Homo sapiens: one gene and its partner. Changing the gene in region 1 together with any one later gene gives a genetic interaction. Each region holds a gene or a part of one and is shown in the gene's direction. Other genes may lie near its edges.

Evidence for each region.
Region 2: changes in RICTOR (region 1) and TRAPPC13 together harm fitness more than expected from each alone (negative genetic interaction), as found in Homo sapiens cells (one large-scale study listed by BioGRID).

What each region holds. Positions count from the first base shown.
Region 1 is NC_000005.10:38,952,400-38,955,899, reverse strand, and holds part of RICTOR (rapamycin-insensitive companion of mTOR), read left to right. Parts: intron 1-195; coding exon 196-305; intron 306-1,038; coding exon 1,039-1,126; intron 1,127-2,346; coding exon 2,347-2,439; intron 2,440-2,808; coding exon 2,809-2,915; intron 2,916-3,474; coding exon 3,475-3,500. UniProt on the Homo sapiens protein: Component of the mechanistic target of rapamycin complex 2 (mTORC2), which transduces signals from growth factors to pathways involved in proliferation, cytoskeletal organization, lipogenesis and anabolic output.
Region 2 is NC_000005.10:65,638,527-65,642,026, forward strand, and holds part of TRAPPC13 (trafficking protein particle complex subunit 13), read left to right. Parts: intron 1-3,500.

The sequences.
Region 1 (3,500 bases):
GTGAGGAAAATGGCAGATATGGGGGTCATTAGTATATAGTACTAGTTGAAACCTGAGCCAAAAGCTTATGGATATGATAGAACATTTGCATTCATAATACCTTGATCTGTCTACCCTTTGCTAAGTATCTGACATATTTTAAATTTAGTGACTCATTGTGATACTATGTGCAATTAAAACAATATTATCCTCTAGGAATACAACTCCAAATATGTTGACTTGATTGAGGAACAACTCAATGAAGCACTTACTACTTACCGGAAGCCTGTTGATGGTGATAACTATGTTCGTCGGAGTAACCAAAGGTGCGTACCCAGTTATCAGATTTAAAACTAGTTCATCATAAATTATTTTTAACATTTCTGAGTTTTTGTATATTCTGCTTCTAACATGATATAGGAAGAATCTTAATGCGCAGCATTAATTGCTCAAAAATTCAGTGGCATTCATGGCATGTTGAATATCCTTACTGATAACGCATTCACATATACTCCATGCTGGCACCCCAGTCTGTATTTCTAGGCCTAGATTCTCTTACCAGTACTTTGAGCTCTGATAAACTGTTACAGGTTGAACATCACTTATCCAAAATGATGAAATGTTTCGCATTTCAGATTTTTTCAGATTTGGAATATTTGCATATATATAACGAGATACCTTGGGAATGGTACCCAAGTCTAAACATGAAATTAATCTGTTTCATATACGCCTTATACACGTAGCCTAAACATAATTTTATGCAGTGTTATAAGTAATTTTCTGTATGAAATAGTTTGCATTAAATACTAATGTGTGGAATTTTCCACTTACAGTGTCATGTCAGTGCTCAAAAAGTTTTGGATTTTGGATCATTTTGGATTAGGGAAGCCCAGCCTATATTTTACCTGAGAAATCCTCATTCCTTGTTACTTTCATATTTTTATTTATGCTGGAGAGTTGTATCTAATTTTATTTATCAAACATTTATTAAAATTCTTTTGTTCTAATTAGCATATTTAAATTAGCCAAGAGATATAGTAATCATCTTTATTATACTAGATTACAGCGTCCTCACGTCTACCTGCCTATACACCTTTATGGACAACTAGTACACCATAAAACAGGCTGCCATTTGTTGGAAGTACAGGTAAAAACATAATTCACTTATTTTAAGTAGCTACAATAGTAAAAAAAAAACAAAATCTTAACATTGCTAAAATATTACCTTTGCAAAAACTTCTCAAAAGCTTTAATATCAGTGGTGTAATTGCTTTTAAATTCATCTATTTTGTAATTGACTTAGGCATTCTATATTTATTAACCTGAGAAATATTAATGGCCTTGCAATGCATTAACTGACTTGTGTATGACTTTTTGAATAACTAACTTGTTATGTAGAGTAAGCAATCCAATGAAGATCTGAGTTCTTTTTTTAGAGTTTAGTGGAGAAATTCAGATCTCCAAAAACGTACTGAAAAACCGAGTTTTTCTTCCACTCATTGGGAAATTAAACTGAACCTAATACAGATTAAGTTATCCTTGTTGAGCAATAAATTGAAAGTTGCTGGTTGTGAGCACATTTTATTCTCGCGTACTTCATGGAATGTTAACAAGCATAGGCAAGCAGTTGTTCTTTGAGTTATAATATGTACACCGCATTTATGGTTGTGAATATGTCATGCAACTGTTTCCAATAAATGTAACGTTTCTCTTATTTTAGAAATAAAGTTATAGGAATATTTGTTTTTGTGACAGAACAATAGTTATTTAACAATTTAGTTCCCGATTGTATCAGTATTCATCTCAAGAGCACAAAGTTTTGCATAAATGTACTCTATAGTTTCATGTGTTTTTATATTACGTCTGTGAAAACTGTTGGGACAAGTATTTTCATATTAACATTTGAAAATTTCACTAAAAATTTAAATGATTTTCTCAGTGTTACTACTTACATAGTATGATAAAACCTAAGCACTAATTTACTTTCTGTTTTAAAGAATAAGTATGATTATTTAGTAATACTAAGTGCCAAGTACTTTGGTAAGCACTGTATGTGCAATAATTTATTAAATCTTGAAACCTTATGATGCAAATGTTATTATCACTCTTCTAGATATTAGGAAATCAAAGGATGAGGAGATGAAGTAACTTGCCCAAGGCCATGCAGTTAATAAGTGATAATTCTAGAATGTGAATTCAGAACCCCTGCCCTATGCTGCTTCTCAAGAAATTTTACATAAAATTATTTAGAATTTAAATATGCAAAAATGACAAAAAACAAACGTTATACTGGTTTTATGATGCAATAATAATATATTAAATACATAAATATATTATTACTCATGGTATTTTTTTTTCTTTCTCCAGAATATTATTACAGAACTCTGTCGTAATGTTCGTACACCAGATTTGGATAAGTGGGAAGAAATTAAAAAACTGAAAGCATCTCTTTGGGCCTTGGTTTGTAATAAACACTTCTGTAAGATCTTCGCAATTTTTAGATTTTTAAGTTTTTTTTTCATTTATACTAAATAGATAAATATTTTCTTTGGAACTACTTATTAGATTAATATTTAAGACTGGATTGTTCCTGCCAATATAAGTGTATTATCTCTATGTTGAAGAATAGATGGTTGAACTATTGGTTTCATGACTTTTGTTTTGTTGCTAAGACAACTAGAATTAATTCATGCCTAATGTTTTGTACTTGAGGAGGCTTTTACATTTTTTCTCTCTCAGAGATGAGGTTAAATTTGTTTCTTGGTAGCTTTCCAAATCTTTTGAAAGAGTGACTCTTATATTTGATGTAAGTGATTTCTTTTCTTTCAGGGAAATATCGGCTCATCAAATTGGGGTCTCAATTTGCTACAGGAAGAAAACGTGATTCCAGATATACTAAAACTTGCAAAACAGTGTGAAGTTCTTTCCATCAGAGGGTAGGTCATTTAACTCAGAAATCTTTCTAATGTAGACGTTGTTATTCACAAATGGATGTTAGGGGAAAGTATTTTATGATTAAGTGCAATGCATAACTGTTAATCCACTGAAAGTTCTAATGATACAAGATTATTAACTGTATTAAGTTAAACATCTAAACGAACTCCTTGTTTACTACTATAATTTGATTTTTATTATATTGAAGTTTACCTTGTAGGTAACAGGTAAGGCATAGTGTTGTACAGATACTCCAGTATTCCTGTAACCCAGCTGTTCCAGATTTATACTAGAAAAGCTAATATACCTTTTTTGCTCATGTTGCATTGTGTTCTTTTTATTTTGTTGTAATTACTATTTTTATTGGGAAGGTTTGCTTGTTTTTTATTGCTGCTAATTTATTCCTGACTAGTCTTAATAAGTTTTTTTTTTTCCACAAACGCAACCATTTTGGTGGGTTTTAGAGAAAGTTCAAAGTATGTATAGCAAATTAATCTGTGGTGGCTTTAAGAAATCTCAGCTTGGAATTATAACTGTTTTTACTGCATCTTTTATATACAGGACCTGTGTATATGTACTTGGGCTCA
Region 2 (3,500 bases), about 27 Mb from region 1:
CTTTTAACAGTGAACAAATTTCACTTGGTAAGAGTCCGTAAGGTGGTACAGAGGAATAGTAGCTGTATTAGTCCATTTTCATGCTGCTGATAAAGTCATACCCAAGACTGGGCAATTTACCAAAGAAAGAGGTTTAATGGACTTATAGTTCCACGTAGCTGGGGACAATCATGGCGGAAGGCAAGGAGGAGCAAGTCATGTCTCACGTGGATGGCAGCAGGCAAAGAGAGAGAGCTTGTGCGGGGAAACTCCCATTTTTAAAACCATCAGATCTCAGCCAGGCGTAGTGGCTCATGCCTGTAATCCTAGCACTTTGGGAGGCCAAGGCGGGTGGATCACTTGAGTTCAGGAGTTCGAGACCATCCTGCCCAACGTGGTGAAATACCATCTCTACTAAAAATACAGAAATTAGCCAGGAGTGGTGGCGTGTGCTTGTAATCCCAGCTACCTGGGAAGCTGAGGCAGGAGAATCACTTGAACCTGGGAGGCTGAGGTTGCAGTGAGCCAAGACTGTGCCACTGCACTCCAGGCTGCCTGGGTGACAGAGTAATACTCCATCCCCCAAAAAATAAAAATAAAACCATCAGATCTCATGAGACTTATTCACCGTCATGAGAACAGCACAGGAAAGACCCACCCCCATGATTCAATTATCTCCCACCAGGCCCCTCCCACAACACATGGGAATTACGGGAGCTACAAGATGAGATTTGGGTGGGGACACAGAGTCAAACCATATCAGTAGCCATACAATAGAGCATCTTGAAAGCCAGGCTAAGGTTTTATTTAACCTTTTTTGAAAAATTATTTTTTAAAATGGACAAAAAAATTAATTAAGAAAAAAAAAAACAGGCCTGGCACAGTGGCTCATACCCAGAATCCCAACACTTTGGGAGGCTGTGACAGAAGGATTACTTGAGGCCAGGAGTTCAAGACCAGCCTGGGAAACATAACGAGACTCCCATCTCTACAAACAATTTAAAAAGTAGTTGAGCATGCTGGCACACACCTGTAGTCCCAGCTACTCAGGAAGCTGAAACTGGAGGATTGTTTAAGCCCAGGAGTTTGAGGCTGCATTGAGTTTTGCCTGGGCACTCCAGCATGGGCTACAGAACAAGACCTGTCACTGAAAAAAATTAAATAAAAAACAGCAGGCAGTTGGCTTTTGAGCACTCTTTGTGTTAGAAAGACTGATATGAGCACATTGTGTGGGATGCTTTGTAGAAAATGGAACAGTTAGAAGACCTTTGAAGTAGTGTAGAAATTAAAAGATAGAATATGCTAACTCCGCTAATGACCTGAAATTTCTTCAAAAGAAAAAGAGCAAAAAGAAGGTAAGAACTCACAGTATGTGGGGGAGAGGTTTTTGTAAAACCTGTCTTAGAGTGATGAGTTCAGGTAATTGGAGTATTCCAAAAAGGACCTCTAATTAGAATGAGTTTGAAAATGATCATAGAGTTTTAAAGTTAACAAGGACGTTAGAGAGCAAATAGACCCAACTTCCAGAAACTGGATGCAAATTTGTGCATACACGTACATATGTTTGTCATATATGGATGGGGTCTCTGCCTTTCATTAAATTAGGAGTTGACAAACTACAGCCCAAAGACCAAATTTGGTCCATTGTCTGTTTTTATAAGGCTTTTGAACTAAGAATGGTTTTCACATTTTCAAATTATTGAAAAGAATATTTTGTGACTTGTGAAAATTACATGAAATTCAAATTTCAGGCCAGGTGTGGTGGCTCCTGCCTATAATCCCAGTGCTTTGGGAGCCAAGGCAGGAAGATTGCTTCAGGCTACGAGTTTGAGACCAGCCTACACAACATAGCAAGGCACCGCCTCTACAAACAAACAAAAAAGAAATTCAAATGTCAGTGTCCTTAAATAAAGCTTTACTGACACACAGCCATACTCATTTGTTTATGTTTTATCTGTGGCTGATTTCCAGCTACCACAGCAGAGTTGTATATAGTTGAAACGGAGATTGTATGGCCTCTAAAATCTAAAATATTTGCTAATGACTTCAGAGAAAAAGCTTGCCAACCTCTACATTCGATTGTGAAAAGATCTGATTTTCAAAAGTTTGAGAACATATACTTTTGTCTTTCTATGTTGTAAATATTGAATTTCTTGGAATTCAGTAAATACTGGCAATTCAGTAAATTCAGTAAATATTGAATTTATTTTTATAAGAGATTAATAAAATAGCAAAGGCATATACTTTAAGATGTCAGTACTATAAAGATCAAAGAATACAGTAGTATGCATGTTCTAAAACATGATTTTATATTTCATGCCTTTATTCACTTTTATAATAATAATTATAAGCAGTGTAGTACTCACTAGGGGTCTTAGGCTCAACTAGACATTCAGACTCATGATATATAATAATGCTATTTTTCTTTTTCTTTCTTTTTTTTTTTGAGAGAGGATCTAGCTCTGTCACCCAGGCTGGAGTGCAGTAGCATGATCATAGCTCACTATAACCTCAAACTCATGGGCTCAAGGGATCCTGCTGCCTTAGCCTCCTGAGTAGCTGGGATTGCAGGGGTGTGACACTATCCCTGTCTAATTTTTTAATATTTTTTAGAGACAAGGTCTTGCTATGTTGCTCAAGCAGGTCTTGAACTCCTGAACTCAAGCAAGCCTCCCGCATCAGCCTCCCAAAGTGCTGGAATTACACATGTGAGCCACCATATCTGGCCAGATAAGCCAATTGTGACATCAGAATCACTTAAGAGGATATAGGTCATGAAGCACAGCTTGATATTGACCTGTATTTGTGTGAGTGTTGTCTTTTGATCAGGTTTTAGGTGTCAGTATTATGGTTGCTTAATAAAAGATTTCGGATGTTTTTCCAGTATTTTCAGTGCTTTGGAACAATATGTGCATCAGGCTAGACTCAGTGGCTCATGGCTGTAATCCAGCACTTTGGGAGACCAAGGCAGGAGGAGCCCTTGAATCCAGGAGGATCCCCAGGACTCACCTGGGGAATATAATGATCGATGTCCCTACAAAAAAGAAATTTAAAAATTCTCTGGCCATGGTGGCGCATACTTGTAGTCCTAGCTACTTGGGAGGCTGAGGCAGGAGGATCACTTGAACTCATGAATTCGAGGCTGCAGTGAGCTATAATTGTGCCACTGCATCCTAGCCTGGATGACAGGGCAATACCCTGTCTGAGAAAAAAAAAAAAACAAAAAAAACAAGACAAAACAAATACAGAGAACTGTGGATCATTTAGATTACCTATTCTTTGAACGATTTGTAGAATTCCCTGCAAAATCATATGAGCTAGTTCTTTTCTTTTTTAAAATGGGGAAGCTCCCTGATAACACTTTTTCTTTTTTTTTTTTTCCTATGAATATAGTATGTTTAAGCAGTTTATCTCTAAGGGTGTCAATTTTGTTAAGCTGTTTTTTTCTAGGAAATAATCCATTTCATTTCATGTAGATTTTCACATTTATCTGCATAGAGGTCTGTAAAGTAGGCTCTTAA